Regions from separate parts of the Homo sapiens genome. Here region 1 is linked to region 2. Evidence: fine-mapped expression QTL. A gene starts in region 2. The other region holds a variant in brackets. All regions are shown on one strand. Distances are from middle to middle.

Evidence for each region.
Region 1: its variant is fine-mapped to the expression of CPEB2 in whole blood (TOPMed, PIP 0.99).

What each region holds. Positions count from the first base shown.
Region 1 is chr4:15,069,473-15,081,402 of GRCh38, reverse strand. All of the region lies in intron 2 of C1QTNF7-AS1 (C1QTNF7 antisense RNA 1), which reads left to right. CPEB2 (cytoplasmic polyadenylation element binding protein 2) reads right to left here. Exons shown (of 12, transcript NM_001177382.2): 12 at 11,252-11,930. Among named protein-coding and RNA genes, the nearest start is that of CPEB2, 73 kb to the right of the region's middle. The variant A/G (reference allele first, on the strand shown) is at 5,334.
Region 2 is chr4:14,995,959-15,007,888 of GRCh38, reverse strand. CPEB2 (cytoplasmic polyadenylation element binding protein 2) reads right to left here and starts at 5,408. Exons shown (of 12, transcript NM_001177382.2): 1 at 3,554-5,408; 2 at 303-584. The coding sequence starts at 5,215. It overlaps CPEB2-DT (CPEB2 divergent transcript), which reads left to right and starts at 5,844. Exons shown (of 8, transcript NR_038857.1): 1 at 5,844-5,951; 2 at 6,164-6,263; 3 at 6,660-6,728. C1QTNF7-AS1 (C1QTNF7 antisense RNA 1) reads left to right here. Exons shown (of 6, transcript NR_125911.1): 5 at 1,319-1,418; 6 at 2,732-2,947. RefSeq lists enhancers at 2,962-3,528, 6,370-6,419 and silencers at 2,970-3,569, 3,950-4,159, 4,260-4,409, 4,460-4,769, 5,270-6,129.

The DNA of each region.
Region 1 (11,930 bases), 74 kb before region 2:
AATAAATCTCATATCCAAAAAAGTGCCAACATGGTGAAACACTGTCTCTACTAAAAATACAAAAATTAGCTAAGCGTGGTGGTGCATGTCTGTAATCCCAGCTACTTGGGAGGCTGAGGCAGGAGAATCACTTGAGCCTGGGAGGCAGAGGTTGCAGTGAGCCGAGATCGGCACTTTAGCCTGGGTGACACAGAGTGAGTTAGACACTGTCTCTAAGAAAACATAAAAAAACCCCAAAAAAGTGCATTATAGGAGTAATTACTTCGATGGGAAGAAGAAATAAGGTACTGAAGTTTTTCAGACTTCCAATAACAAAGTTGTTTTTCCCCTGTAGGAATTTTATTAATGAGTATTTTTTAACTAAAAACATATAGCTATAAAAATGAAACATAACTGAACAAATATGGCATTTGATTCCACCTAGCTTTTCTCTCAAAAACAATCTCTTTCCTTTTTCTGTCACTACTAGCTGTTGTTATACATTCTTACCATCTGTTTTTATCTACTTAGCAATTGTCTATCAAAAATTTCTGCTCTGCATGAGGCATTGTTCTAAATGTTGGGGCTGTCATAGTGACTAAGAAGGGTAAGAATTCTGACTTCAAGAATCTTCCCATCTTCCAATCTAGTGGGAGTGACAGACATGATACATGTAAGCAACCAAATCAATACAATAATTATAGATTTTGATATGTGATAAAGGAACTAGGTAAGACACCGAGAGGGAAGTTAACAGGAAGGGCTCGCTTCAGAATGCATGGACAGGAAAGGCCTCATGAAATCTGAGATCTGAAGACAGAGAAGACCTGGGGGAAGAGCATTCCAAGCAGAGGGAACAGCTAATGCAAAGTCCTTGAGGAGGAAAGAGTTTGCTATGGTCTTGGAAAGTTCAGGGACACCCAAACGAAACAACTGTGCTGCATGTGAAGCAGCATTTTTCTTCATGACTAAACTGCTCAATGGTTCATTTTAATCAATAGCAGATTACGTAATGCAAAATAAGTCTCCAAATTAATATACTGCATTGTGTCTAATTCAGATCGTGAAAAGTCACTCTGTAGGAGAAATGCCTGCACCACTTTGAGTAACGACATCATTGCGAGCCACCAAAATTTTAGTTTCTCAGGCAGCATGATGACATTTCAAAAAGTTCAGTGGAGTGGCTTCTCATGGTCTGGGGGGAAGGCAAGCACTGGACAAAGACTCTGGGGCTCCCATTTTGGCTCATCCACCAAACAGCCTTGGAACTTCAAACCAGTCATTCTCCCTTCTTGGAACTCAGTTTCCTTCTCATCTGAAATAATTGATAAAGTCACTTTAAATAAGTAAGGGCTATGGTTTATTTCCTGTAGAATGGTTAATGATTTACATGTCATCATCAGTATAATTTGAACAAGGGGAAAAAAGAAAGAAATAGAAAGGAAGAAATAAAAAGAGAAAAACTAAAGAAAAGAAAAAGGAAGAAAAATAATGAAGATCTTGCACATGAATGAGGAAATGCTTAATAAATGGCATATAGTAATCATAACTTTTTAAAAACAGAAGTTTCTATGTCAAATATATGGCAGGGCTACCTGTTTAGCTGCTGGTTCCATCCCTGTCCGACAATTCCTAGTGGTGAAAGCCTATAATCTGAACCTGACTCTTCTGATAGCAATAATAATTCTCAATTCAGCCCAGGAACACCACATGTAATTACTGAATTCTAAAGATGGTCTCCCAAGATTCCCATTTCTTATTTTTCAATTGAGCACTGATCTAGGTACTGCTATGAGGAAATTTTGCAGCTGTAATTAAAGCTACATGTCAGTTGATCCTATAATACAGAGATTATCCAGTGGGCCTGACTCAATCAGCTGAGCCGTTTAAAAGCAAAATTTTCGCTGGCTGGTTGCAGAACAGAAAGTTTCCAAACTTGAGAAAAATTCAACACATTTTTTGCTGGCTTTGAAGGAGGAAGCAACGTTAGCAGGAGTGTGGTCAGTCCTAGGAGATGAGAGTGGCCCCTTGCCACCAGACAGCAAAGAAACAGACATCTCAAAAGCACAAATGCAAGAAACAGTATTCTGCTGAAATTTGAATGCTCTTGGAAGTACCTTATTTCCCACAGTCTTCAGGCAAGAGTCCAATCCAGCCGTCATCTTTATTTTGGCCACGTGACGTCCTTAGCAGAGAACCCTGTCATGTTCCCCCAGACCTCTGACCTACACAATTGTGAGCTAGTAAATGCGTTTTGTTTTAAGTTACTAAATTTGTGGTAGTTTGTTACACAGCAACAGAAAATGAATACATCAAATATTTGAAGAAAGCAATATGAAAGAAAGACACCAAACTCAACTAACATCCAAAGAAACACTTAATTTAACAAGTAGGATGTTTTCTTTAAAAAAAACCCTATAATTTCTCCAGTAATTTAAAAAATTGTGGTAAGAACATTTAACATATCTATCTTCTTGACAAATTTTTAAGTGTACAATGCAATATTGTTCAATACAGTCATGATATTGCACAACAGATTTCTAGAACTTACTCATTCACCTTGCATGACTAAAACTTTATACTCACTGCCCAGCAACTCCCCATTTTCCACTTTCCCCAAACTCTGGAGACCACCCTTCTACTCTTTGCCCCTATGACTATTTTTGGAAATTCATATAAATATTTGTTCTTTTGTGACTGACTTATTTCATGTAGCACGGTGTCCTCAAGATTCATCATGTTGTCACATTTGGCAGGATTTCTTTCTTTTTTGAGGCTGAATAACATTCCATTGTATATATATACCACATTTTGTTTGAAGAGTCTTTGACTTTGGTATTAGGGTAATACTGGCCTCATAAAATAAGTTTAAAAGCTTCCCCTCCTCTTGAAGTTTTTGGAAGAGTTTAAGAAGGATTGGCATTAATTTTTTAATAATTGAATAATATTTTTTATTATCATGTCTTCTCATTCCTAGGAATTTAAGTGATAAAAATCAGAACAGAATCTGAAATAGTCACACTACAAAATCGGTTAGATTTCTCTTGGGATACCACCACATGTGCTCATAAGTGGGATCTAAATGAGGAGAAAATAGACACTTAGAGGGGAACAACATACACTGGTGCCCTTTGGAGGGTGGAGGATGGGAGGAGGAAAAGGATCAGGAAAAATAACAAATGGGGTACTAGGCTTAATATGTGGGTGATGAAATCATCTCTACAACAAACCACAATGACGCAAGTTTACGTTATGTAACAAACCTTGTTTGTACAAGGTTTGTATCCCTGAACTTAAAAGTTACAAAAAAAGGGTCAAAAATTATAAAAAGAATTGCATAATCCTAAGTCATCTATTTATTTAAAAGTGTTTGGTGTAACTCACCAGTGAAGCCATCTTATTCAATTTCCTTACTAATTATAGATCTGTTCAGGTTTTTAATTTCTTCATAATCCAATCTTAGTAGGTTGTATGTTTCTAGTAATTTATCTGTTTATTCTAGGTTATACAATTCGTTCGTGTATAAGTGTTCATAGTAGCCTCTTTTGATCCTATTTCCATGGCATCAGGTAAAATGTTTCCTCTTTCATTTCTGATTTTTTTAATTTAAGTCTTCTCTCTCTCTCTTTTTTTTTTTTTCAATTCTAGCTATGGGTTTGTCAATTTTGTTGATCTTTTTCAAAATCCTACTCTTAGTTTTATTTTTTTTAATTGGTTTTCTGTTTTCTATTGTGTTCATTTCTGCTTTAATCTTTCTTTCTTTCTTTTTTCTAACTTTGGGCTTAGATTGTTCTTTTTCTACTTTCTTGAGGTACAAAGCTATGCTGTTTATTTGAGTTCTTTCTTATTTCAATGTAGGTGCTTATTGCTGCATAATTTCCTTTTCCTGATTTTGTTACAGTCCAAAGGACTTGGTATGTTGTGTTTCCATTTCCAGTTTTCTCAAGATATTCTCAAATTTCCCTTCTGATTTTTTATTTGATTCACTGGCTGTTCAGGAGTGTCTTGTTTAATTTACATATTTGTGAATTTTCCAGTTTTCTTTAGTTATTGATTTCTAGTTTCATTTCATTGTGGTCAGAAAAAAATACTTAGTATGAGATCAGTCTTCTTAAATTTGTTAAGATTTGCTGTGTGACCTAACATGTAATTAATTCAGCACTTGAAAAAAATGTGTATTCTTCTGCTGTTTGGTGGAATATTCCATATATGTCTCTTGGATTCATTTGGTCTACAGTATTGTTTATGTCCTCTGTTTCTTCATTGATTTTCCATATGGAACTTCTATTCATTGTTAAATGTTAGGTATTAAAGTATCCTACTATTGCTGTTTTTCCCTTAGTTCTGTCAATGTTTGCTTCATATATTTAGATACTTCTAATGTTGGATGAATACATATTTAAAATTGTTACATTTTCCTTAATAATTATTTTATCATTATATAATGACCTTTTGTGACAGCTTTGTCTCAAAGTCTATTTTGTCTAGCATAAGCATAGGCATGCTACTCTCTTTTGGTTACAATTTGCATGGAATGTTTTTCCATCTCTTCACTTTCAGTTTGTATATGTTCTTAAATCTAAAGTCAGTCTCCTGTAAACAGCATATAATAAGTTCCTATATTTTATTAATTTTATTTTTATCCATGCAGCCATTTATAATTGGAGAATTTAATTCATTTACCTTTAAAGTGATTGTTCATAGGGAAGAACTTACTATTGCCATTTTCTAGTTTTCTGTCTTTTGGTTCTTGTGTTCTTTTCCTTTCTTGCTGTTTTCCTTTGTTGATTTTTTTTTTGTATTGATATGCTTTGATTCTTTTTTACTTACTTTTTTAAATTTACTTTTTACTTTCTTTTGTGCATATTTTATAGGTGTTTTCTTTGTGGTTACATGGGGCTTACAGAAAACATCTTATGGTTATAATAGTCTATTTCAGGCTAGTATCAACTCCATACAGAAACTCTACACTGTTACTTTTCTTCTCCCCACACTTTGTTCTTGATATTACAATTTATATCTTTTAAAATTGTTTATTCATTAACATATTTTATAGTTATAGTTATTTTTACTGTTTTTGCCTTTTTAACCTCTAAACAAACTAAAACTTATTTACCTATCATATTACATGTCATGGTATTTTCAATCTGTATATATATTTACCTTTACCATGAAGTTATATAGTTTCATATGCTTTTTAATAGATGTTAAGCATTCTTCCTCTTCAACTTGAAGAATTCCCTTTAACATTTTCTGTAAGGCACATCTATTGGTGAAGAATTCCTTCAGATTTTGTTTGTCTGGGAAAGTCTTTATCATGCCTTCATTTCTGAAGAACAGGTTTTGCTGGTTAT[A/G]GTATTCTTGGATGACAGTTTCATTCTCAGCACTTTTAATATATCATCTCACTGCCTTCTAGGCTGTAAGATTTCTGCTAAGAAATCTGCCAATACTGTTATGTATATTTCCTTAGATATAACAAGCTTTCTCTTGCTATTTTCAAAATTCTCCTTGACTTTTAAAAATTTGATTACATTGTGTCTCAGTGTGGATCTCTCTGGGTTTATTTTATTTGGGAGTCCTTGGGCTGCTGAGATGTGGATGTCCATTTCTTTCATAGATTTAAGAAGTTTTCAGTTATTATTTCTTTAAATACACTTTCTACCCTTTCTGATCCTTCTGAGACTCCCATAATGTGTATATTGTTTCCCTTAAGCTTTCTTTCCTCTTTTTCATTCTTTGTTCCGTTTGTCCCTCTGACAAAAACATTTTCACAATCTGTCTTCAAGTTTACTAATTTTTTATTTTTTAGTTCAAATGTTTCATTCATTAGTTTCAAAATTTCTGTTTGGTACTTTACTTTTTTATTGTAATAATTCCTTTGTTCATGCATTATTCTCCTGACCTCATTAAGCATCTTTATAACAGTTATTGTGAATTATCTATTAGTAATTTTCTATTAGCAATATATCTCCCATTTCATTAGGGCCACTTTCTGAAGCTGTATCTTGTTCCCTTCTGGAGGACATAGTTTTCAGTTTTGTATTGTTTTTCATTTTCCTTGACTTTTTGTGTTGGTATCTATGTATTAGATAAAACAGTCAACTCTCTTCATCTTCACGGAGTGGCCTTATACAGGAGAAGACTTTCACCAATCATTCTGGCCAGATATGTTGGGGGGCCTCTCAAACTTTTATGCCAGTCCAAATCATCATCTTTGTCCTTTAGTAGACCCCAAGCATCTAAAGTATGCTGGGCCCTGTCATTGCTTTCAGACAGGTGAGACAGAAGCCTCAAGCAGTACCTGAAAAATTGGAACTTTGGATGTGCGGGCCAATTCTTTCCTTCCTCAGGGAAATGCTAGCATCTAAGATGTATCATCTGCTTGCGTTGTGCTCTGAGGCATGGGGAAGGGCTATTGTGGCTGCTTCCATGCTAGTTCAAACCATTGTCTTTGTTCTCACTTGCCTCTAAGCCTCTAGAGTATGCCAAGACCTATCAGCACTCTGCAATAGGTAAGACAGAAACTAGTCCTTTGGGAAGCCCCTGGAAAACTTTCAAACATTGGACACATACCCCAACTCTTTCCTTGCACCCCAGAAGAAGCTGAGAGCTGCTGCTGTTGTTGTTGTTGCCTCTAAATGTGTCTCTATTCCAGTCTGCTAGATACGGGAAGTGAAAGCCAATGTGATGGTTCTAGAAGGCAGGAGAGGGATGGGAAAAAGCTGATATTTATCAAGTGTATCTATGTGCCAGAGAGAACACTGGGTGCTTTACATACATAATCCCTAATCTGCATAGCAATTCTGTATAGTAGGTATCACTGATGCCCAGTAAGCTTAATAGACTTTCTCAAGATTTTCTAGCTCCTATAGGGCAAGGATAGAATAGAAATTCCTTTTTCTAACTGTATATGCAGCTCCCAGTTCACTGTCTTTCTAGTATATCGGTTTGCCGCTTTTCTGATTTTATAATTTTCTAACATATCTTCTCCAAGCTTTTCCCTTTCTAGACATTATTTTCCCTCAAAGGTCAAGAGCAGCCATGCTTCTCTTACAAGAACATGAGTATGATGATGGGAACAGTAAGGCAGGGCAGTGTGGTGTGGCATAGTCCGATGGCTCCTGACCCTGCCTGTACAGTAGAATCACCTGGGGAACATGTTAAAAATATATTCATCTGGGCCTCACTCAAGGCCTACTGAATAAATATATCTGTGACTGGAACTTCGGGAATATATGTTTTAAGAAACAATCAGCATAGATTTGAGAACCATTGGTGTAGTTAGAACTAGGTTTGGATCTTGGCCCTGCCATTTACTTACTTTCCATTTTTCCATTTTGTGTTATATGACAACTGTTAGTCAAGCTAGACTAGGTCTTGCTGCAGTAATAAATTAGCCCTGAAATCTCATTGTCTTACTACAACAAAGGATTATTTATCACTCTTATTTCACCGCTGGCTTACTGGCCTTAGTGTACAGTTTATTTCCATATTTGTTTTGTATTTACACAACATATAGAAAAATCCTGATTCACACACAAATAGTTTAGCATACTGACTTAGATGCTCACAAGAAAAGAAGCAGAAAAACTGGATGGAAGGTTGTATCACTAACAATATCTAACTCAACTGATGGCATTCCTTGGGAAGTATTCAGTTTAGAGGTAATTGAACAGGTAGATTCACTATTTGGTAGAAAATACTTTTCAAATGGCAGTAAAGTTGGGCGTTAAAATAACAGTATTATATGATATGTTCAAGGGCGTCATTAAAAAAATCTCAGTTGTCTGTTGTACTTAAAGTTTCAAATCATACAGACATATGTTCTATATATTAGGTAAGGCTAACTTTAACAATTATTGTTGAAGTTTTATCAATAAAGACAATAATTTTGTGATTTGCAGTAGAGCTTATTTTGACACACAGCGCCACTACTTATCATATGACTATCTGTGTCTTGATAGTATCACCACATGCCTGCCATTTGTCATGTGAGGCCCAAGTACTAACATAATGTATTTTCTTCTTTGAGAGGAGAAAATGGTAGATCCCGGCTCCAGTGAGTGTAGGGTAGAGAGAAAGCTAATTGAAATGAAGCTTCCTAGAGGAGATGGCAGGGAAGTTGGTCTTGAAAAGTTCCATAATCTGCACAGTTAGATCTCTAACCTCATTATCTGCCATGCCGGGCTTTGGAATTTACGCTCTAGAGACACACCCTACAGGTTGTTTTGAGCTTTGTTCAAACTCTTTCTTCTCCCTAAAATCTCTTATCACTTTTTTCTTTTGGTTAAGTAACACATATTCTTCATGCCTAATCTCAGTTTTTATTTCTTCCAGGAAATGTTCTTTATTCACTTGTTCTTTAAATTATTACTTATTTTCTGTGTTCTTGTGGCCTATTGCACACATCTCCCTTATTTTAATGTCATTGAAATTATCAGAGTACTCCTAGAATTGACCATAAACACCTTGTCTTATTCTTCACATCTCCATATACTTATTTTTACATATATATATGCATTAAGTACATTCACATTGCTGCATAACCATCACCACCATCTATCTCCAGAACTTTTTTCATCTCAACATGAAATTCTATGCCAAACAATAACTCCCCATTGCCCGCTTCCCCTAGCCCCTGGCAACCACTATTCTTTCTCTATGTATTTGAGCACTCTAGGTACCTCATGCAATGGAATCATACAGTGTTTGTCCTTCTGCAACTGGCTTATATCACCCAGTATGTCTTCAGGCTTCCACCATGTTGTAGCATGTATCAGAATTTTCAAGGCTTCCTTTTTAAGGTTGAATATTCCATTGTATGCATATACTCCTTTTTGTTTATTCATTCATCCATTGACAAACATTTCGGTTGCTTCCACCTTTTGGCTGTTGTGACTAATGCTGCTATGAACATAGATGTACAGAAACCTGTTGAGTCTCCGCTTAGAAAAGTTTTCTATTTCTCAACAAGTTTTACAATTATTCATAATGTGAACTGATAGGAAATTCATTTTCTATATGTGCATTACATTGCACAAAATGGTTTTAAAAACAGCCTATAGACCTAGAATTTAGTTACCATGAAAAATCTCTTTGATTCTGTTTTTGTATTTCTTCCTATGTTCCTCACTCTCTTATCCTGCTATTGAAGCAAGCATTGTTTTCTTTTCCATTTTCCTTTTTAAAATAAATTTTATTAGTGAAGTGTAAAATATACAGAAAAGTGCTCAGGAAATAATCATCAGCGTGATAAATTATTCACAAAATGAACACTCTGAGTGTGTGTGTGCATACATGGGGGATGTCTGAATTAAAATATGCAGTCATTTTAGGAGGTCAGCAATGTCTTAAACTGAAAAATAAACATTGTTAAGTGTGCTATTTGGATATAATAAGGCAAATAACATGATACTGTTAAAGTGAAAACACTTAAAAAGAGTTAAAAGTTGCCTTTTATGAGTGGAAATTGTAGATGAGGAAAGGGTGGGTGGGGTTTTATCTTTTTCATAATTTGTGTATTTGACTTAAAATATTTAAAATGTTACATTTAAATATATATTAAATGCATTTAAAAATTACATATATTGCAATTTGAAGACAATTTAGTATTAATAATAAATTAATCAACATCTATAGTCTTATCTTCTTCTATCCCAAACAAGGCTTTCTTCTTCATTTCAAATGTTCATCCAGGTTTTGCTTTAAATTACCTTGAGTTTTAGTTATTATTTTAACATCGATGTTTTAAATTATGACTTTATTTGGACTTGCTTCTAAATTGTGTGAAGCTTTTTAGCCACATTTCGTTTCCTAACTATACACTAGAGCGATATTTTTTACCTATGTAGTATCCCATGTCTTCATGTTTCCTGGGTATTTTATTATCATTCCTTCTTTTTGGTGAAATAGATCTTTAAGTAACTCTTTTAGAAAGGATTTGTGAGTGCTAATCTTTGTATCTTTTAATTCTTTGTTCATGGAAAAATTTAAGTCAAATGCTATCCCCTATGTAAAAGTTCTTAAGTAATTTCATTTCAAGGAAATGAAATTACTTAAGAAGAATATTCCTTCCTTTCATGCTTTATACATGTTTATGAAAGTGTATTTTATCTTTTATTAGCATACTGCATTGCATTTGAGTTAGCCTGGCCTTTCACCTTCAAGGCTATGAGACCTTGTGAGCAAAGATTTGACAAAGTCGGTGTTCAGTACTAAGTTGGTATTCAAAGCTTATTCTTTTCTTAAATAACCGAGGGAAAGGGGAGCATAAGAAAATGATCTTTATGTCAGTAGCAAGGGAATTAAGACACTGTGAAATTCCTGTTGTCTTAGATAGGCCAGAATGTGGAGGCGGCTCTTTAGTTTTATTATGAAAGAGGACTTTGTTGAGGAAAGAGAAAATAGATTCCAAATAGAAAAATGGCAGCATATGCTAAACAAGATACAGATATGTAGAGATGCATGATTTGCTTGGAGGACATGGGTGACAGTGACACAATATGAAGGGCATACAATGGCAAGATTAGCCCATTTAAGGAGTTTCTATGGTGTCTTGTAGAAGATGAGGAAACATTAAGTTTTACCCTTTCTGACATACCTATGTCCTTATAGGTAAAACAAAACATTTGGTTATGATCAGTGATCTTTCATTTTCTGAAAATGCAATGGAATCCTTTCCTCCTTCTGCCCAGTGACTGCATACCAATTTTTAGGTAGAACTTCAGCTTTGTTAAAGTTAAAAGTAGAGCTGTTCTAGTTATAATTAGGATGAGGAACCTAGATTCCAGGCTCCTTACTCTATACTTCTTTTCCTTCTCCCTCCCTCTTCAAAGTAGACACTGAAAAATCCACACAGGCTGTGCAAAGAACAAGTAAAACACTACAAGTGATTCCCAACTAGAGGGTATCTGAGAAAGTATCATGAAAACTGTGCATTTAGCAACATGATTAACAGTTCCTCATTTTTTGAATGCAGCATCAACTTAGATATGGCAATATTAATTATAAGTGATGACTGTAACACAGAAATTTCTATGATATATGGGGGATGAGGGTGGGAGAACTGACACAAGAGGACTCAGGGCTGAAATACTGAGAGATACTAGACAACATGGTCTCCAAGGCTTCTCCTCTATCCTTGTACTGAAATGTAGTTTGGCCTGGGCATCATAATATATTTATGTCACTAAGCTCTCTCTCTAAATAAGATCTTACTGGTGTTTTTGAATATTTTACTTGATTTGAACCGAAGAATAAGATTCCACAACTATGCCAATAACTTAATAGTTTATTAGTCAGTCAACAATATTACAAATATTTAAAAATTACTTAATATAAATAGTTGGCAGCAAACTATTCCATTACAGAGTTAAATTACCAGTACAACAGACAGACTGGAGATTTAGACACCTGGAAGATAACAATAAAATAAACTAAAATATTTAACGAAAAATTTAAGCTGAAGGTGTTTACCTAGTGTCCATAAAAGCATGGGTTCTCTTTTTATTTAGAAAAAAATAAAAAACGGCTTTAACACCCCATTAGGAATATAAAATAAAATCAACTGAAAATATTAATTTGCATATCAAAGAACCATTTATAATTACAATCCAAACACTCCATAAACCACTTGTGCGATTCTATACAGAAACTGGGAATTAGAAACTAGTTGCTTTAATATTACAAAGATTTCAGCTCCAAAAATAATTCAACATAAAATAAACTTTAGCAATTAGTGTCATAAAATTATATATTTCCACATAAAAATACAAAATAATATTAATGACAAGAATATGAAAAATTATTCCAAGTATTTTACTACTATTAAAATAAAATAAAACCCAAAAAAACAAAATAGAAATATGCATGAAAAAAGTCTCTCCTTTTGTTAGCAAAACACTATCCAAAATAACTACAATCATTTACATCAGTACAAAGATTTCTGGATT
Region 2 (11,930 bases):
ATTTATAAATTAAAGCATTCTTAAAGAGCTGCTAATTGAAAGCTTCAGTATGTATTTAATAAATACAAAAGGTTTTTCTACGTTTTACTAAGCTTATTTTCCATTGCGTGTTTAGAGAATTATTTTACATTCTCAATTTTCTCTGTATAGATATTTTAACCTTTGTTAATTAAATTACATGCTTAAAAATTAAAACTTTATTTCAAAAAATGTTAATTTTAGCATACCACTACCACCACCACCCAACTCCCTATTTTGAAAGATTAACATTAGAGATAAGGTCATTTACATACCATTCTTACCTGTAAGGGTAAGAGTGTATTACTATTGTTGTCTGTTCTGAACACATTATCTTCAATCCAAGATTTTGGAGTCAGTGATGGAGTTGAGCGAGTAAATTTCGGTGGTGCTATGACATTACCAGAAAACGGTTTCTTCAATGGAGATATCTGATTCATAGTTCCTGGGATTCCCATGTTTCCGGTTCTACGATGATCTCTGCCATGCATTGCTCCCCAGGACATACTTCCAGTGCCCCAGCCACTGCTCTGATGGTTGCTCCAGGGAGACTGTTTCAGAAGAGGCTAGGGAAAACATAGCTATTTAAATTGCGGCATTTAAAGAATTTACAATTCAAATTCAAATTCAAATTTCAGACCTAAGAATTTATATGAATGAAATATATAAAGGCAAAAGAATACATCTTTTCTAGGTTATAAAAGTAACAGTCTTGAGATCTTTCTATGTGAAATCATATTTGATGCTGGTCAAGTTTTCATCTTCTTGTATACTATAAATATCATGATATTTTATGACAGTTACTAAAATAGAACCATGCAGTTCCTTTTTATCCTTCAGAGATAACTGTATACATGATAAATATGAAGAAAAAAATTGAAATTAACTCTGAAGATTCTTAAAGATATAACATACATGGTGATCTTAAAGCAACCATATTAATTATGCTAGGCACACAACTAAAAATATGGTCTTTGTTAATTAAAATATCCTACTCATACAAGTGAAATATATAGACTTTATGTTTCCAAAACAAGTTGCACTACTACAAAAGTGGGAATTACTCTTGTACAAATTAAAATCGCCTTTTGAAATAAGGACAGTATAGAAACTATGTCATTTTTCTGCATTGTTTATTTAACTGTTAAGGCATTTTATTCCAGTTTTAGCATAGTTTGTCTTAATTGTTTTTATTTCACTTAATTATCCATAAACTGTGAAGCAATTATCTGATGTTGCCCATAGGTGGATCCACTGAGGTATACTGCTAATTAACTATATGCTTTGATTATTCCACTAGAGATCTTGATACAAGTCTCCATCAAGTTGATTCATTTTCAAAAGTAAATTACATCCTAATCTCAAACCTGTGGCAAGACAAGTCAAATCATCAAAGAATGGTAAATCCATCAAAACGCTAATAATTGTAGTTTTGGGTTTTTTTTTTTTTTAAGAAGTATTCATTGCTGGTAATTCTACTGTCAGTAAGTTTATACTTTAATACTTTGGTGTTAAGATGTAGCTAAAGAAGTATGAACCATACAGTTACTACAAATAAATATGGTTCTCTTAAAATTGAACCTGCTTTTTGTAAGACAATTAAAAGAGAAACTCCTGATCTACAGCACCAATTTTTAAACACTTTTAAATGCTAACATAATCATGAGTATATTATTACTCTTTCCTCTTCCACAGAGGTCCAAAGCATAATTACAGAGCCATGGACAAACCACTTCATTCTTGAGGGCCTTACTCTCCTTATTAAATGATTTAATGCTCAAAGTTATCTTCCAGTGATCTAAAATTCCATATGAAAGCTGTGTGACCTCTCACACTCCATGGCTAGACCCATCTTTTGTCCAAAAGCAAATTACAGTTAAATATGGATCATGGTATATGTTCTTCCAACGCTCTGTACCACAACTTTAAGTAAATACAAAATTACCTACAGATAATTTTCTGTGGGCAAGTTTCCAGATAACAAAATGAAGATCCTGAGACACAAAAGACAGTTGCTGAGGGTTATAAAAATCATGAAAAAGTGGAACATTATTTCAAAATCCCTATTTTCAATCCTCATAGGCCACATTCTCTTTTCTAAGAAAGAAATCAGTGATTCAACAAAAACTGTTCACTGTCACTTTGGTTAACTTAGATAAACTGTTAACTTTCACTTGGGTTAATTTAGATAATATTCACTTTAAAAAGACTAATCCTTGAAAACTTTGGTCAACTGAAAAAGTTATGGGGTTAAGGTCATATTTTGCGTCTCTGTCAATCCTTAATCACGAAAATAGAAAATGGACTTAAACAGAATGAACTCTGCAACAAATGCTAACAAGATTCAAAACCAACAAGACACTCTTTCAATGCCAATTTACCAATCTAGCGGTCACCCAAAAATTGTATTGAGGGAATAACAAAAAAGATCTTGAATCAAAAAAGATCCGGAAAATAAAAATTCTGCCCAGTGTCATTTCACAATATTACCTACTTAAAATACACACGGCCCACATATTCCCTTGTAGAAGGTTAAGGCAACCAAAAAATGTACCGAAAGTCTACGAGGAAACACACCAATCCCAGATCCAAGTTCAGTTTTGTCTTAAAACCCACAAAACATGACCCCAACATTGAAAAGCACAGAAACTAAGACATTCGTGGGATATCTCGGTTTGAACCCGAGCGGTCACTAACAGTTTCTCTTTCCCAGTCCTGTGACAGCCAAGGAGGCGGCCCCGCGGGAACCAGGTCCTGCGAGGAGGGCGGTCGGCCGCTCCCTCCCGACTCCCTCCTGGGCCGGCGGCCCAGGGTGCGGCGCTGCCAGCAGGTTGATCGGGCGGAGCTTTGGGAGCGGCTCGACTGACCGCCCGAGGGGCTGAGGCTTCAAGGCGAGATCACCGCCGGCCAAATAAGAATAAACAAACTCCAAAGAAAAAAAAAAGCCTTTCCGCCTTCCCTCATTGGACAGCGAGACAGAGTCTTGGGCTCCTCCGCACGCACCTTCTCCAGCAATCATTTTTCCCCTGCCCAAGTTCACTTCCCACGGCCGCTCTTCCGAGGCCCCCGGCCAGCCCCCGGTCCTCGCCGCGCCTCCCCGCGTCGGGGGTCCGGGGCGGCGGCCCTCCAGGCCCAGGGCACAGGGCGGATCCCGGGGTGCGCCAGCTAGGAGGGCCGGGTTGAGACGCCGCGCCCGGCCGCCCGCGGCCCCGGCGCTATTCGGCCCCTGCCCCAGTCCCCACTGCTGCGCCGGGACGTTCGAGGGGGCGCCCGGCCAGCCGCGGCTCCCAGCGCGAACTCGTCTCCCACGCCCCCACAGCCCACGGTGGCCACTGCCCTCCCAACCCACCGGGGGCTGGGGTTCCGAGTCCTGTCACGGTTGTCCGCCCTCAGTTCCACTCTCACTTGGGCGAGTGGCCCCCGTCGCGGCTTCTCTCGGGGCTAAGGTCGGGTCCCCGGCTGCCCTGCCCCCGCCTCCGTCCCCCGCCCATGGTCTCCCGGTCCCGCGGCGCGGCCAGGCCGCCGCCCGCCGTACCTGGTGGTGGTTATAGGAGTTCCTCTGCTGCAGGAAGGCGGCGGCCGCCGCCTGGTGCTGCTGCTGGAGCTGCGGGCTGACGGGCGACCTCCGGCTCTGCGGCTGCTGCGGCGCCGCGGGCGGCGGGGGCTGCTGTTGAGGTATATTCATGGCGGGCGGCGGCGGAGGGGGCACAGCGGTAGCCGAGAAGGGGCCGCCGAAGCCGCCGCCGCCGCCGCCGCTCGTCGGAACGCTGAGCCCAGTGCAGCCGTGCGGCGACACGGGCGAGAAGCTAGGGAAGAAGGCCGGGTTCATGGACGACGGCAGCCCGGGGTAGAAGCCGTTCTCTGAGTCGGGGCTGGGCGGCGGCATGGCGCTGAGCGAGCCGCCGCTGCCGCCGCCCGGGGTGGTGGCAGACGAGCCGGGCGGCTGCGGCTGCGGCTGGGGCGGCTGCTGGGGTGGCGGCGGCTGCTGCTGCGGCTGGGTCGGCGGCGGCTGCTGGGGCTGGGGTGGCGGCGACGCGGTCTGCACCGACCAGGGGGTGCCGAAGCCGGGCAGCGGCGGCGGCGACGCGGAGCCGCCTCCCCCTCCGCCTCCTGGGGGCCCCCCGCCCCCGCCGCCGCCGCCGCCGCCCGGGTGTGGAAGGTCCGGGCTCTGCAGGCTGCTGAAGGCGCCCGCGCCAAGCGCACCTCCGGGCAGGAGGTTACTGGGACTGTTGAGCAGAGGGTGGTTGGGGGACTCCATGGAGCCCGGCGCGGGGTTCACCGGCGTCGAGGAGGCCAAGCCCGCATTGGGGGACTCGGCGGCGCTGCCCTCGCCCGCGGCTGGGGTCTTGCGAGGGCTGCCCGCGCCTCCGTGGCGGCGCCGCGGGGCTGCAGGCGGCGAGGGAGGGAGCTGCGGGAGCGGGGGCAGGTCTGCCGGACGCTGCCGCGGGGCGAAGTCCTGCGGCGAGAGGTGCTGCTGATGCAGGAGGCTGAACTGCTGCGGCGGCTGTTGCTGCTGGCGCTGAGCGAGCTGCGCCGGCTGGAGGAGCGGGCCGGCTGGCGGCGGCGGCGGGCTGAACCGACCGGGGCAGTGGAGCGGCGGAGGCGGCGGCGGCGGCTTCGAGTCCGGAGGGTGGGGAAGGTGGGGAGGGCTGAACTCTTTCCTCTTCTGGCTGCTCAGCTGCTGCTGCTGCCGCTTACTGAAGTCCTGCGGGGAGGAGGTGCGGCAGCAGCAGCAGGAGGAGGCGGAGGAGGAGGAGGGGTGGTGCAGACTCGGTTTGAAGTCCTGGGAGGGGAGGAGGTGGGTCACACCCGCGATCGTGCCGCCGCCGGGGTGGTGGTCGGGGAGTTTCTCCGTGGCCGCCGCCCCCGAAAGCGGCCGCGCCGGCTGCTGTGTCAGCCCCAGAAGCAGCTCATCCTGCATGGTCTGCTGATGCGCCAGGAACGGGGAGGAAGAGGAAGCGGCGGCGGCCGGGCTGCCCGCGCCGCCGCCGAGGGGGACGGAGAAGGGGGAGGCGGCCTCTAAGAAGCCGGTGACAGGCAACGGTGGTGGCGACAGTGGGCCGAAGGGCGTGGCGGAGGGCAGCGGGTTGACGGACCCCACGGCGTAAGGACCATACGCCTCGCCGCAGAACAGGGGCCCAGGACTGCTACTTCGGAGCGGGGCGGTCTGCAGCACCCCAAACCCGAAATCCCTCATTTATCAGGCCGCCGGCAGCGGGAGGAGACGCTCCTCGTCCCCTGCCCCACCTAGGAAGCCGCCGGCGCTGGGGTTGCGCGGCCGTGGTGGAAGGAGGGGGAGTCAGTGAGAGAGGGACACCGTGACTGAGCCAGGGGGCACCGACTTCGGCCCCACCACCCCTCGCGGCGATCGCCGCCGCCGCCGCCGTCGCAGTCGCCGTAGCCGCCCTGGCCGCTTAAGAACCCCGGAACGTGCGTCAGCGCCACCTCACAATCGCGCCGCCCCCCGCGGTGCGTCCCGGCACGCGCGGGCGCGAGGCCACCGCGTCCCCGTCGCCCCTCCCCGCCCCTCATTACTATGCAGACGCAGCCGAGGGCGCGCTCGCGCTCCCGGGAGGGCGGGAGCGAGCGGCGTGTCCCGTTGGGTCTCTCCGCTCCCGGGGAAATGGACAGGCCGGTTGGGGTGGGGGTCGGCTGGCAAACAGTGGTCGGGAGCATTGGGCGGGCGCGCGCACGAGGGCAAGCACGCGCGGGAGGGAGGGACGGTTCCTGGGCAACGGCCCCTCCTTGGCGCGGGATCCGCGCAGAGTCTGCCTGGGTCGCACGCGTCTCCGCCCCTCGCGGTGCCTCCTCCTTCCTGTCACCTCGGTTCCGCCCTGGGTGGGGAGAAGCCCTGCTGCACCACTCGGGCTTCCCAGAGCGGGGCTGGCCCGCGGGGGAAACTGAGGCCCGGGACCCCGACCGGCGCCTGCACTGTGCGACCCGCGTAGAAATAGGCGCCCGAGGGGCCCCCAGCGCAACGCGGGAGCCCGGCCCAGCCCGGGGGTCCTGTGGTGAACTAGCGTCTGGGCTCTGCCGGCTTGAAGTCCGCTGAGCGCCTCGCCGCGCACCTCTAGACCCCGAGTCCCCGATCTAGGGCCTCCTTGTAGCCCTAGGTAGCGCCCTCTAAGCTTGTTTCTGTTTTTAGGCGCTGGTAGGAGTGCTGTCACCGACGTCGTAGAGCCGCCGAGGGTGTTTCTGTAGGGTAAACATGAAGCCTCGGCTATATTCCAGGCATTTTCACTTGGGTAAGAAGGAACAAAGTCCCTGGAACAAACACGCTCCGCGTGGTTATTTACACACTCGGATGCGTGGAACGGGTTCCACGGCGAGCTCCCATAGTAACCCCGGGCCAGCTCCGCTTCATAAAAGCCTTTCGTGTGCCATCAGGGCTGCAGCGTGGGACTCCTCCCCACCACATTCATTCCGGCGTCCCCGCCCCTTCCCCCCAGGGAGACTCTAATTTATTCCTAAGCTTTATGAATTTTCAAGGGAGAAATAGTTCTTACATCAGGGAAAAAAGGAGGTTCTGACTCAGCAGCAGACTTGTTGAGACTTGCAAAATGGAAGGGAGAGAGCTTTCCATGGTAGAGCTCTTTAGAAGCATTAGAGGAGGAACTAATCCTGTGTTTCCTTTTGTATAGAAACATTTTACATAAAGTATTTGAAGGTCTAGATAAAGAATAACAGAGTGATCCATACTACATGATGAGGTGAACTTTATGTTTCTGTTTTGTAATTTTAACTGTTTTGCTTGATGCTTAGAGAAATGAAACTATTAAATGAATCCTAGAATATAGACTCAAACCCCCAAAGCAATAGAAGGTGGATTCAGACTTTACTTGATTTTGGTTTACAAGTGAACTAAGATTAAATATTTAATTTTATAAATTAGCATACTCTTACTGATGTAGGCAGAGTGTACATTTTTATAAGTCCTCATTCTCTATTTGAATTCTACTTCTGTTCAGTGTCTCAAATTTATATAAATCGAAATAAACATGGTAGAAAGAGAGCAACATTGCCCCAGGGAACTATACTTCATGTATAATGTTTATCTCTGCTATCCTGTCCAATGAACCAAGTTTTATGTTGCCTTTACAATAAGGAAAAAGTACTTTTTAAAAAACTCAAATGGTTCAGAATTTGGTCAGGTGAATAGAAAATTGGTTCAACTTATTAATCTCAAAATCATTTTTAACAGTCAGGCAAAATGTAGAACTGGAGAAGTATTTTTATTCTAAATTACAATGTCTAGAAAATAACCTGAGCTCAGAATTTAAAATATAAATGGTTATTTTCAGAGTATATATTGACATATTAAATATTCATTTTTTAAAAGGTATTGTGCAGGAAAAAAAACTACTTCTGCAACTAAGGAATGTAAAGTCTTAACAACGGATGATTTTTTTCCAAGTACAGTTGTATTTGATTGGAATCATTTGCAGATCCAACAACAAATCTTGAAATAGGGGGAAAATACAGGTATAAACCTTAGCTCAATTATCCACTAACACCGCAGTTAGTAAAGAGGAGAGAGCACATACTTTTAAAAGCTAACTGGTGCCTTTCTGGGCTAGAGTTTTGAACAAAAACAAGATTTCTTAGTGCTCTGGTACTAGTTTTGTCTTAGAGGATTTAGAGCTCTCTGAAACGGGGAAAAGCCATCAAGTTTGTTATTACATAATAATGTCAAACTTCATATTAAATACACCAAATTCCAAATCCTGCCAGGGCCTCTACTCACTACTTTTGTGAGGGCCCCATTTTTTTAGAGCAGAAAGTTACTTTCTGACATCTTGTAAGCTGGTGATCTTGCCCTTATTGAAAATATTCAAATGAAAAGGTTTCCTAGGGTGGAGAGTGGAGTGGGGTAGGGAGAAGGAGCAGCAAATACTGAGGAGGGACTATGGTCCTCTAGCAGTTTCCATGCCAAGATCTTATGAGTCCATTCAATGATTTTTTTGGTTTTTTACATGAAAATATTTTGACTCATGATCATTAACTAGGACCTTGACTTTGTATTTGACAGTCCCTTATTCATTTACTCCCACTGTCCTGGGCAAGTATTTTTAAAAGTATTTTTGCTACAACCCAATATATGTGCAAGTACACACTCATGCAACTGAAATAAAGCTGCTATTAAGCAATTCTTTTAATAATGCAACAAACTCCTTTTTATAATTCTATTTTCATTTTAAAATCACGTTTGATCTCAAATTACAAAGTTGGTTTTAACACCCTCTATCAGATTATGAACTGAAAAACCACTGTCCTAGACCATTTCAAACATTCTGCTCAATCTGAAAACCTCTTGTCACATCTCTCCTACATGCATCTGCTAGCATGTAGCACTCTCAGCTGCTGAGCTACATGCTTATTTCACTGAGAAAAAAGAAGCAACCACAGGAAAACTTCCACAGTCTCCCTGCATCTGTCCCTGCACACCTTGCCTTCCCTCTCGATACAATGGATGGCCCATCTGCCCATACTCCTGTCTAAGGCCAGCCTCTCCACTGGCGGAGCAGATCCTACCTCTAACCTACTCAAGACATGGGCTCCAACAGTTTTCTCTCTCTGTCCTTCATCATGACCTCTTTCCTCTCCAGGAAACACTTCCATGTGCACAAAAACTTGCTTTACTAGTTCTCACCTTTGAAAAGTAAAGCCAAAACCTTTTGACCTTATATTCTCCCTCCTTTAGCTACTGCCTTCTTTTTCTGCTTTTACATTGCCTGAACGACTTGCCCATTTGACTGAGTGTCTCATAGATACCTCAAATTAAACACGTCAAAAATTAAACTCCCTGCCTCACTAGGCCCAATCCCTGTGGCGCTCCATTGTTCTGGTTGCTCAGGCCAAAAACCCTGGAGTCATTCTTCACTTCAATCCACTTCTGTCCTTCTTGCATCATATCCAAGCCATCAGAACATGTTGCTTGTCCTACCTTTAAATTACTGGCATAACCTAGAGATACCGTGGGTTTTGTTCCAGATTACCACAATAAAGCAAATATCCCAATAAAGCAAGTCACACCAATTTTTTGGTTTCCCAGTGCATGTAAAAGTTATGTTTACAGTATATTATACTCTAAACATAAGTTCTCAATTATAGTCTAAACATAACTTGTAATTACATTTAAATAAGTGCACAGTAGCATTATTCTGAAAAATATACACACATTAATTTAAAAATACTGCTAAAAAGTGCTAATGATCATCTGAGCCTTCAGTAAGTCATAATCTTTTTGTCAGTGGAGAGTCTTGTCTCGACATTCATGGCTGCTGACTGATCAGCATGGTGGTGGCTGAAGGCGGAGGTGGTTGTGGCAATTTCTTAAGACAAAGATAGAGTTTGTCACATAAATTGAATCTCCCTTTCATGAAAGATTTCTCTGTACCATGCAATGCTGTTTGATAGCATTTTGTCCACAGAACTTCTTTCAAAATTAGTCAGTCCTCTCAAAACCTGCTAATGCTTTATCATCTAAATTTATGTAATATTCTAAATCTTTTTTGTCATTTCAGCAGTGTTCATAGCATCTTCATGAGGAGTAGATTCCGTCTCAAGAAACCACTTTCTTTGCTTATCCATGAGCAGCAACTCCTTCTCCATTCAAGTTTTATTGTAATATTGCAGCAATTCAGTCACATCCTCAGGCTCCACTTCTAATTCTAGTTCTCTTGCTATTTTTACTACATCTGCAGTAACTTCCTTCACTGAAGTCTTGAACCCCTCGAAGTCATCCAAGAGGGTTGGAATCAGCTTCTTCCAAACTCCAGTTAATGTTGACACTTTGACCTCCCATGAGTCACACATATTCTGAATGGCAGCTAGAATGGTGAATCCCTTCCAGAAGGTTTTCAATTTGCTTTGCCCTTATCCATCAGAGAAATCACTATGGCAGCTATAGCCTTATGAAATTTATTTCTAAAATAATACTTGAGGCTGTCCTGGTGACAACTTAGTGATTTTAAATTTTAAAATGAAAATAGAATTATAAAGAGGAGTTAGTTGCATTATTAGAAGAATTGCTTAATAGCAGCTTTATTTCAAAACAATCTCAGCACTTTGGGAGGCCAAGGCGGGCAGGTCACTTGAGGTCAGGAGTTCAAGACCAGCCTTGCCAACATGGTGAAAACCATTCACTTCTAAAAATACAAAAATTAGCTGGGTGTGGTGGCGCATGCCTGTAATCTCAGCTAATTGGGAGGCTGAGGCAGGAGAATCGCTTGAACCTGGGAGGCGGAAGTTGCAGGGAGCCGAGATAGTGCCACTGAACTCCAGTCTTATAGCCAGAGCCAGATTTTGTCTCAAAAATAATAATAATAATACTTGAAACTCATAATTACTCCTGAATCCATGGGCTGCAGAATTGAAGTTGGGTTAGCAGGTATGAGAACAACAATTATCTTCTTGTACATCTCCATCAGAACTCTTGGGTGACCAGGTATATAGTCAATGAGCAGTAATATTTTGAAAGCAATCTTCTTTTCTAAGCAGTAGATCTCAACAGTGGACTTAAAATGTTCAGTAAACTATGCTCTTTCCAAGTTTTGTGGTTCCATTTACCAAGCACAGGCAGAGTAGACTTAGCATGATTCTTAAGGGCCCTAGGATTTTCAGAATGATTAATGAGCATTGGCTTCAAGTTAAGGTCACCAGCTACATTAGCCCTTAAGAAAAGAGTCTGTCTTTTGAAGCTTGAAGCTAGGCATTGACTTTTCCAGCTATGAAAGTCCTAGATGATACCTTCTTCCAATAGAAGGCTGTTTTTTCTACGTGAAAACTTATTTAGTGTAGCCACCTTCATCAGTTATCTTAGCTAGATTTCTAGATAACTTGCTGCAGCTTCTCCATAAGCACTTTCTGCTTTACCTTGCACTTTTATGTTACGAAGACAGCTTCTTTCCTTAAACACGAACCGACCTCTGCGAGCTTTGAACTTTTTTCTTCTGCAGCTTCCTCACCTCTCTCAGCCTTCACAGAATTGAAGAGAGTTAGGGCCTTGCTCTGGAGTAGGCTTCAGCTTAAGGGAATGTTGTGGCTGGTTTAATTTTCTCTATCCAGACCATTCACACTTTTTCTATATCAGCAATAAAGCTGTTTCACTTTCTTATCACTCGTGTTCACTGGAATAGTACTTTTAATTTCCTTCAAGAACTTTTCCTTTGCATTCAGAACTTGACTAACTACTTGGTGCAAGAGGCCTAGCTTTCAACCTATTTCAGCTTTCCACATACCTTCCTCACTAAGCCTAATTATTTCTAGCTTTTCATTTAAAGTGAGAGACATGTACCTCTTCCTTTCACTTGAATACTTAGAGGTCGTTAGAGTGTTATTAATTGGCCTAATTTCAATATTGTTTTGTCTCAGGGAATAGGGAAGCCCAAAGCCTTTATTGATTAAATTATTGTCTTATATGGTTGTGGTTTGTGATGTCCCAAAACAGTTACACTAGTAACATTAAATATTATGATCACAGATCCCCAAAATAGATATAATAATAATGACAAAGCTTTAAGTAACGCAAGAATTACCAAAATGTAACACAGAGATACAAATTGAGCCATGCTGTTGGGAAAATTGTGCTGATAGACTTGCTTGATGCAGGGTTGCCACCAACCTTCAATTTGTGAAAAACCCATTATCTGAGAAGCACAATATAGCAGAGCACAATAAAGCGAGGAGTGCCTATATATCCAGAATCCAAGCACTTCACCCCATTCTCACCACAAGCAGCCTGGACCAGGCTACATCGTTGCTCTCACCTACTAACTCGTATTCCAGCTTCTGATCTTGCCCCTCTCCAGTCTGTTCCCAACATAGCAGCCAGGATGATACTTCTGAAGTGGAAGACAGGTCATGTCAACTCCTCTGACTAAATACTTACATTTTCTCAGAATAGAAGTCAA